2 separate regions of the Homo sapiens genome follow, and region 2 is linked to region 1. Evidence: fine-mapped expression QTL. A gene starts in region 1. The other region holds a variant in brackets. All regions are shown on one strand. Distances are between the middles of the regions.

Region 1 (2,929 bases):
GGAGGCAGAGATTGGAGTGTTGCAGCCAAAAGACAAGGAACACTGACAGTTTTCAAAACTGAAAAACGCAAGGAACAGAATCTCCATAGAGCCTCTGGAGGGAGCCCAGTCCTGGCTACACCTTCAAACTCTGGTCTCCAGAGCTGTAAGAGAATACATTTCTGTTGTTTTAAACCACAACTTTAATGGTAATTTGTTACAGCAGCCCTTGGGAATTAAATACAGAATGTAATCTTGCTCTGTTAGTTTGTTTGTTTCTGTCTATTCTTGCTCGTGGGCACTTTGTACTCTTGGATTGCAAGGTCTTCCTTGAGAATTGTGGATCCTGACTTGAAGATATGTTCATTTTCAAAGAGCATATATGTAACTATTCCAGAAGCCTGAGGAGTATCACTAGCCTGGACCAATCTTTTTATGTTAATTTTTTACGGACCAAGGCACCCTGATGGATCCAAATAATACAAATGTGAACCCCAGACTGTGGGTAGGCCAGGCAGTTGATTGTGAATTTGCTTGGGAGGATTTCTTTTCTGTCCTGGCCACCCATCCTGCATTAGTTAATTTTGTTTTAATCCACTCTTTCACTTTGGTAGAGCTGCCCTCCAGTTTTTCGAGGACCGTAGGCTACATCTTCAGCTCCCATATTGCTCTAAAACCCACTTTCATCAATGAGAAGACTGGAACCTTTCCACCTTCACCCCAGATCTGTCCGGTTTGCTTCAGTTTGAGAGCTAAGCACTCTAGTTATGGCTATAATTTTTTTGTCTCCTCTTTGCTTTTAATCTCTGGTAGTCTTTTATGTGAGAGCACTTATAATTTTTAAAGGACTTAAAAATAGTAAATCCAGTATTTCTAAGTAAATTGTACCATAAAGTGGAACAGCTAGGTTTAAGTTTAAAACAGAGATCCAAATGTTGCACATTCTAAATAAATACTATTTTATTAAGTAAGTTTGTAAGAAAGACTCAAAATTCCAGTTTCCTCGTTGTGATTTTATACTATGGCTATACAAGGTGTCACAACTGATGAAAAATGGCCGCAGAGTTTATGGAATTTCTGTATATTAATTTCCCCATCTGTGTGTGAATCTTCAGTTACTTAAAAATAAAGCATTAAAAAAGTAAATAAAAATAAAATTTGCTAAACCACAAGAGTTTCTTTCTTTCTCATGTAAGAGAAAAGCTAGGTCCTGATGAAGGTAGCTTAGGTTTACATATCTATCTAGAATGTAAGCTTTATTTCAGCTTTCTTCTACATAATTTCTATACTATATGCCATGGTCTCAAGCGAGGCAAGGAGAATAGGGTTTGGAGGCAGGGAACCTAAGGCTGATTCTGCCTGACTCGATATCAGAGGCTACTCCCTTTTCAACCCCTCCTTTATTCTGCATGGCAGTTGCTGCTGGCAGTTGTAACCCCTCCTTTTGCTGCCTCGCAGTTGTTGCATGGCAGTTGGAAAATGAAAGTACCTCTGATTGGTCCCCTCCTGCAACCAATCAGATTGGTCGTGGGCCTCCTCTTCAACCAATCAGACTAGTCACAGGTCACTCGAGTGAACCAATGGGAAACCTCTTGAGGGTATATAAACCCCAGAAAATTCTGTCACCAGGGTCGTTGAACAGCTGCTCTGCAAGCTCCCACCCTGTGGAGTGTACTTTGATCTTCAATAAATCTTTGCTTTCATTGCTTCATTCTTTCATTGCTTTGCTGTGCATTCTGTCCAATTCTTTGTTCAAAATGCCAAGAACCTGGACAATTTGCAGTCAAGACCCTCCACCGGTAACACAATTTCCAAATTGGACTTAACATTTTCATTTTTCCAGAGCAGATTGGAGGTAGAGAAGAAAGAAGGCATTTCCTTCTTTTCAAAGACACATCCTCAAAGTTGCATATATTATTCTTTCTCGCTTTATATGTCAGATGTTAGGTATATGGCTACACTTCCTGGAAGCTTCCTGAGAATTGTAGCATTTAAGCAGCCAGCATTCTAAAATTAGAGTTCTAGTTCTATGGAGGAAGGGAGACTATTGGAGTTCCTCTAAGTTTCTGCCATGAGCATTTTCAGGTTACGTTGTCTACATGTTATCTAATACCAAAACCTCTGTTAGTATCTTCTTTATTATATAGAAAATAGGGAATTCTATCAGGCCATAAATACATGTTTGTTTTAAAATAAAAATTAAAGTTCTATTACATAAAGATTCTGAAAGAATATCTACAAAATGAAGTTCTGCATTTGGTAAGCTATTCAGAGGCATTAAACTGCCATCTATGGATTTTTCTAAATTACATATATACTTATAAATAATTTATAAGGACAAGATTTTAGAGTTACAATGCTTGCCAGTGAAATTAAGGAAGAGGTGAACTTCATGGTAGAGATGAGAGCTCCCCTGAACTTTTCATCTCTCTGCTTGACATGAACAAGTTTATGACAAAGTATAGTTGATGACTCAGAAAATCTTTTGACAGATGTGCAGAAGCTGACAAATTCTCCACTTTGCTGGTAAAAAGTTACATATCCATCTTGGTCTTTTTCTGGACTGGCACAATTTGCATCTCCCTTATCAGAACCGTATTCAAGCTTACAACAGCTGATAGTGTCACTAATGTCATTGTACCCTATCACGACAGTCTTCCACTCTCTCTCTCTTCCTGCCCCACATATTGCCCAATATATTAACATTGCTTATGTTGCTGTTTTATTAGAAAAGACACTTACTCTTCATTCATTTCTCAGTCTTTCACTCTTTCTCTTGTATACACACACACACATAATTAATACTTGCTCGTCATTCAATCTTACAGTGAAATTCTGGTAGTGAAATCCATATTTTCCTATAATTCTTATAATGAAATTATCATTTCTCAAGAAAGGAGAACTTAAAGACAGGTTAAAATGAAGTACATTTTCTCTGTCAACACTATGC
Region 2 (2,929 bases), 8.3 kb after region 1:
TATCCAACATTTTCTCACAAATTCCATTGGCCAGGAATTGGCAACATCTCAGTCATTAGCCACATGCAGCTTTAAAGACAGTCTAAAAAATTGATGTCTTTTATTCATGTATTTTACCCTGCTGAAATGCACTGTTGCAAAACAAACAAAAAAAAGACACAGAACCAAACTGCTTTCTTTTTTTGTTGTTTTAGACAGATCTATGAATGAGACTAATTTGCCTAATACTTATTCCTATTGACTTTTAGGAAGTTTTTATTGTTAGCAGAAGTTAGAAAAATAAAACTATAAACTAAATTTCTAATACTCTCTAAAACCAGGGTTCTGTACATGATTTAGACTTGCAGTAAGATTCATTAAAGTCTGTAAGACTTTATCTTTAGTTTAGGATTAAACTGCATAGGAAGAGACACAGGATTGAGGCCTCTATCTTACTGCTAAAAGCTAATCTGAGATGCAGAGGATTCTACAGCCTGAAAAACTGAGAAAAACATTGCAAGACTCACATACTTTAAACATGATTACTTCTATGCATATCTCAATTTAAGAAAAGACAAATGCAGTATTATACAACACTCACATTTTAGCATAATTTTGAGGAAGGGTCTTAGCTCATAAATTTGGCCTCCTAATGTGAAAACTAAATTTCTGAAGCAGGGCACGTTAAGCCTCATACCTGGGAACTTGGGAGAGATTTGAGAACTTGAGAGAGACTTACTTTTATTCTCAGTTTTGTCAAATAGTAGTATTTGGACCAATGGCCTGAATGAAAAACTCCTTAGAAAGTGTTCATAGGCTGAAAATTATTCATCATGCTGGAATGAGCCTACCTCAGAATATTTGCACTGGCTGTTTCCTGTACTTGGGGACTGTTTCCCCTGAAAAAAAAAAAAAAAAAAAGTTTGCATGGGTCATTCCCTCACATCCTTCAAATCTTTACTCAGTTATCACCTTTGTAACATGTACCTGACCATCATATGTAAAACTGTGATTCCCACCCCAGCCAGGTTTTCCCCATTCCCTTTTGTTCCCTAAGCACTTAGCACCTCCAAACATATGATATAATGTAATTGTTTAATATATTTTTTCTTTTTCCCTATGCTAAGATTAAACCTCTATCAGAGCAGGGAAATGTATTTTTTTTCATTCATGTAACACCACTTGCAGGCACCTTGTAGGTATTTAGTAAATACCTGTTGAATGAACAAAGAATTAATGAGGAGTCTGGCCAATATTAAATATTGAAGAGCAAGAAAGAATAAAATAAGTTTACATTTTAAGAAAAGATGGTATGTGTATATATCTCCAGTAAATAGATTTCATCATATGCCTAGAAAGGGTAGTGTTTTATTTTATTTTATGCTTCTATTTGCAGGGATATGAACTTCCAATTATATCATTGGACTTGACTACTCCATTTCTTTCCACATTTAAAAATC[G/GT]TAAGTTTACTTTACTTAGGTTACAGAAGGAAAGGCAGTGATTATTTTCCAAAGTAGGCTGAACATAAAAGTAGCAAAGTTGCTTGGAAAAAAGAAAGATGTAATTTGAATTGATAGTAATTAAAATGAAATGACTTCTCAGCCTAGAGAAGAACATTTTGAATACGATGATCAATAGACAACATTATTCTGACAATTCCAGTGTTGCTGCTTATATAAATGTATGCATTACACTGAAGTACAAGAAGTTAGACTGATTTGAGTAATTCTAAACACTAGTTCAATATACAAAATAGAAGGAGCAGCTTTCAATATCCCTCTAAAAGACCATGCAATGCTTATTACCCAGTTTCACTGCATTCCAGGCCACCATTTCACCTGCAAAGGGGAGTTTAAGATTATGCCAGAGCAAAGGGCTGTGATCACTGCTTGGATTTCATTTGATGGGTTTAATAGACAGGAAATCTGCCATGGAGATGACATCTGCAATATACCTTTTATCCTGAAGAATCAGGGAGAAGCTATTTTGAGAACTTAACACAGTATTTAACATGGGATTTCTGAATGAAGACAGTTTATGGATGAATAAGGTAAGTAAGCATTTAGACTGATGGGAAAAATAGGAGTTGCCAAATCCATTCAAATTTTAAAAATTATCTTTTTCTACCTTCTTGTCTGAGCACCTGAGAATAAATCAACATGTGTCTTTGAAAATGTATATTTAATAACAAATAGTACTTAACACTACAAAGTATTTCATACCGATGGTATTCTTCTGATGACTAAATAGCATATTTCCTAATCTCTACACAAAACGAAATTCTATAATTTAACTTTTTGGTCAAAAAGATGAACTTTGAAACATTTTAAATTTTGAAATTTTATAAAACATTTAAAAGTAGATGAGTATCTGAATATCAATTAAGCCACGTAGCCCTTGGTAGTTTCTTATTCACAGTAACGATTTCATAGGTAAGAGTGCCTGTTATCACTAATTAATATCAAATATTAAAAACTATGTAATTCCCACCTTTAAGGATACTTTAATATATTGTGATTATTAATTTAGATGAACTTTATGAAAAACATTTCGATTAAAATGTCTCTCATTAACAGAGAATACAGAGGATTTCTCTTCTGAACATATGACATTTTTTTTTCCAAATTGCATAAAATTCAAAAGCTCCTTTTTAATGCAAAGATAGAATTGAATGACTACTTTTGGTATTTGTTTGGTTGTGTGTGCTTTGCTTCCAGAAAAATAATTGAACTCTTTTTTTTTTTTTTTGGTCTAAAGAATCAGCATTAAATCTTGCTTACCCATTTGTACATTCATTTAGTAAGCAAATAAACTACATTAATAGAGTGAGACTTATAACAGCAGAATTTTTTGGAAGATCTTGATAGTACTATTAGCCTATTGAGTCAATGATTTTGGCCACTATGACAGTCAACTTCACTCTTTCAATAGCCACAATTGATATAATTTG

Which allele goes with the higher level. Alleles are on the strand shown, and positions count from the first base shown. SD is a standard deviation of normalised expression in the study named.
As copies of GT replace G in region 2, the expression in testis of the gene that starts at base 1,607 in region 1 goes down (large effect, 0.90 SD a copy in GTEx).

The links. PIP is the estimated chance that this variant, and not a neighbour inherited with it, causes the effect.
Region 2: its variant is the best candidate, but not a certain one, in a credible set for the expression of LINC01794 in testis (GTEx, PIP 0.56).

Annotation. Positions count from the first base shown.
Region 1 is chr2:40,744,875-40,747,803 of GRCh38, forward strand. LINC01794 (long intergenic non-protein coding RNA 1794) reads left to right here and starts at 1,607. Exons shown (of 4, transcript NR_183396.1): 1 at 1,607-2,238. The region is part of intron 2 of LOC105374497 (a long non-coding RNA gene); the gene reads right to left.
Region 2 is chr2:40,753,191-40,756,119 of GRCh38, forward strand. It overlaps LINC01794 (long intergenic non-protein coding RNA 1794), which reads left to right. Exons shown (of 4, transcript NR_183396.1): 2 at 1,376-1,439; 3 at 1,948-2,029. All of the region lies in intron 2 of LOC105374497 (a long non-coding RNA gene), which reads right to left. Among named protein-coding and RNA genes, the nearest start is that of LINC01794, 8.2 kb to the left of the region's middle. The variant G/GT (reference allele first, on the strand shown) is at 1,440.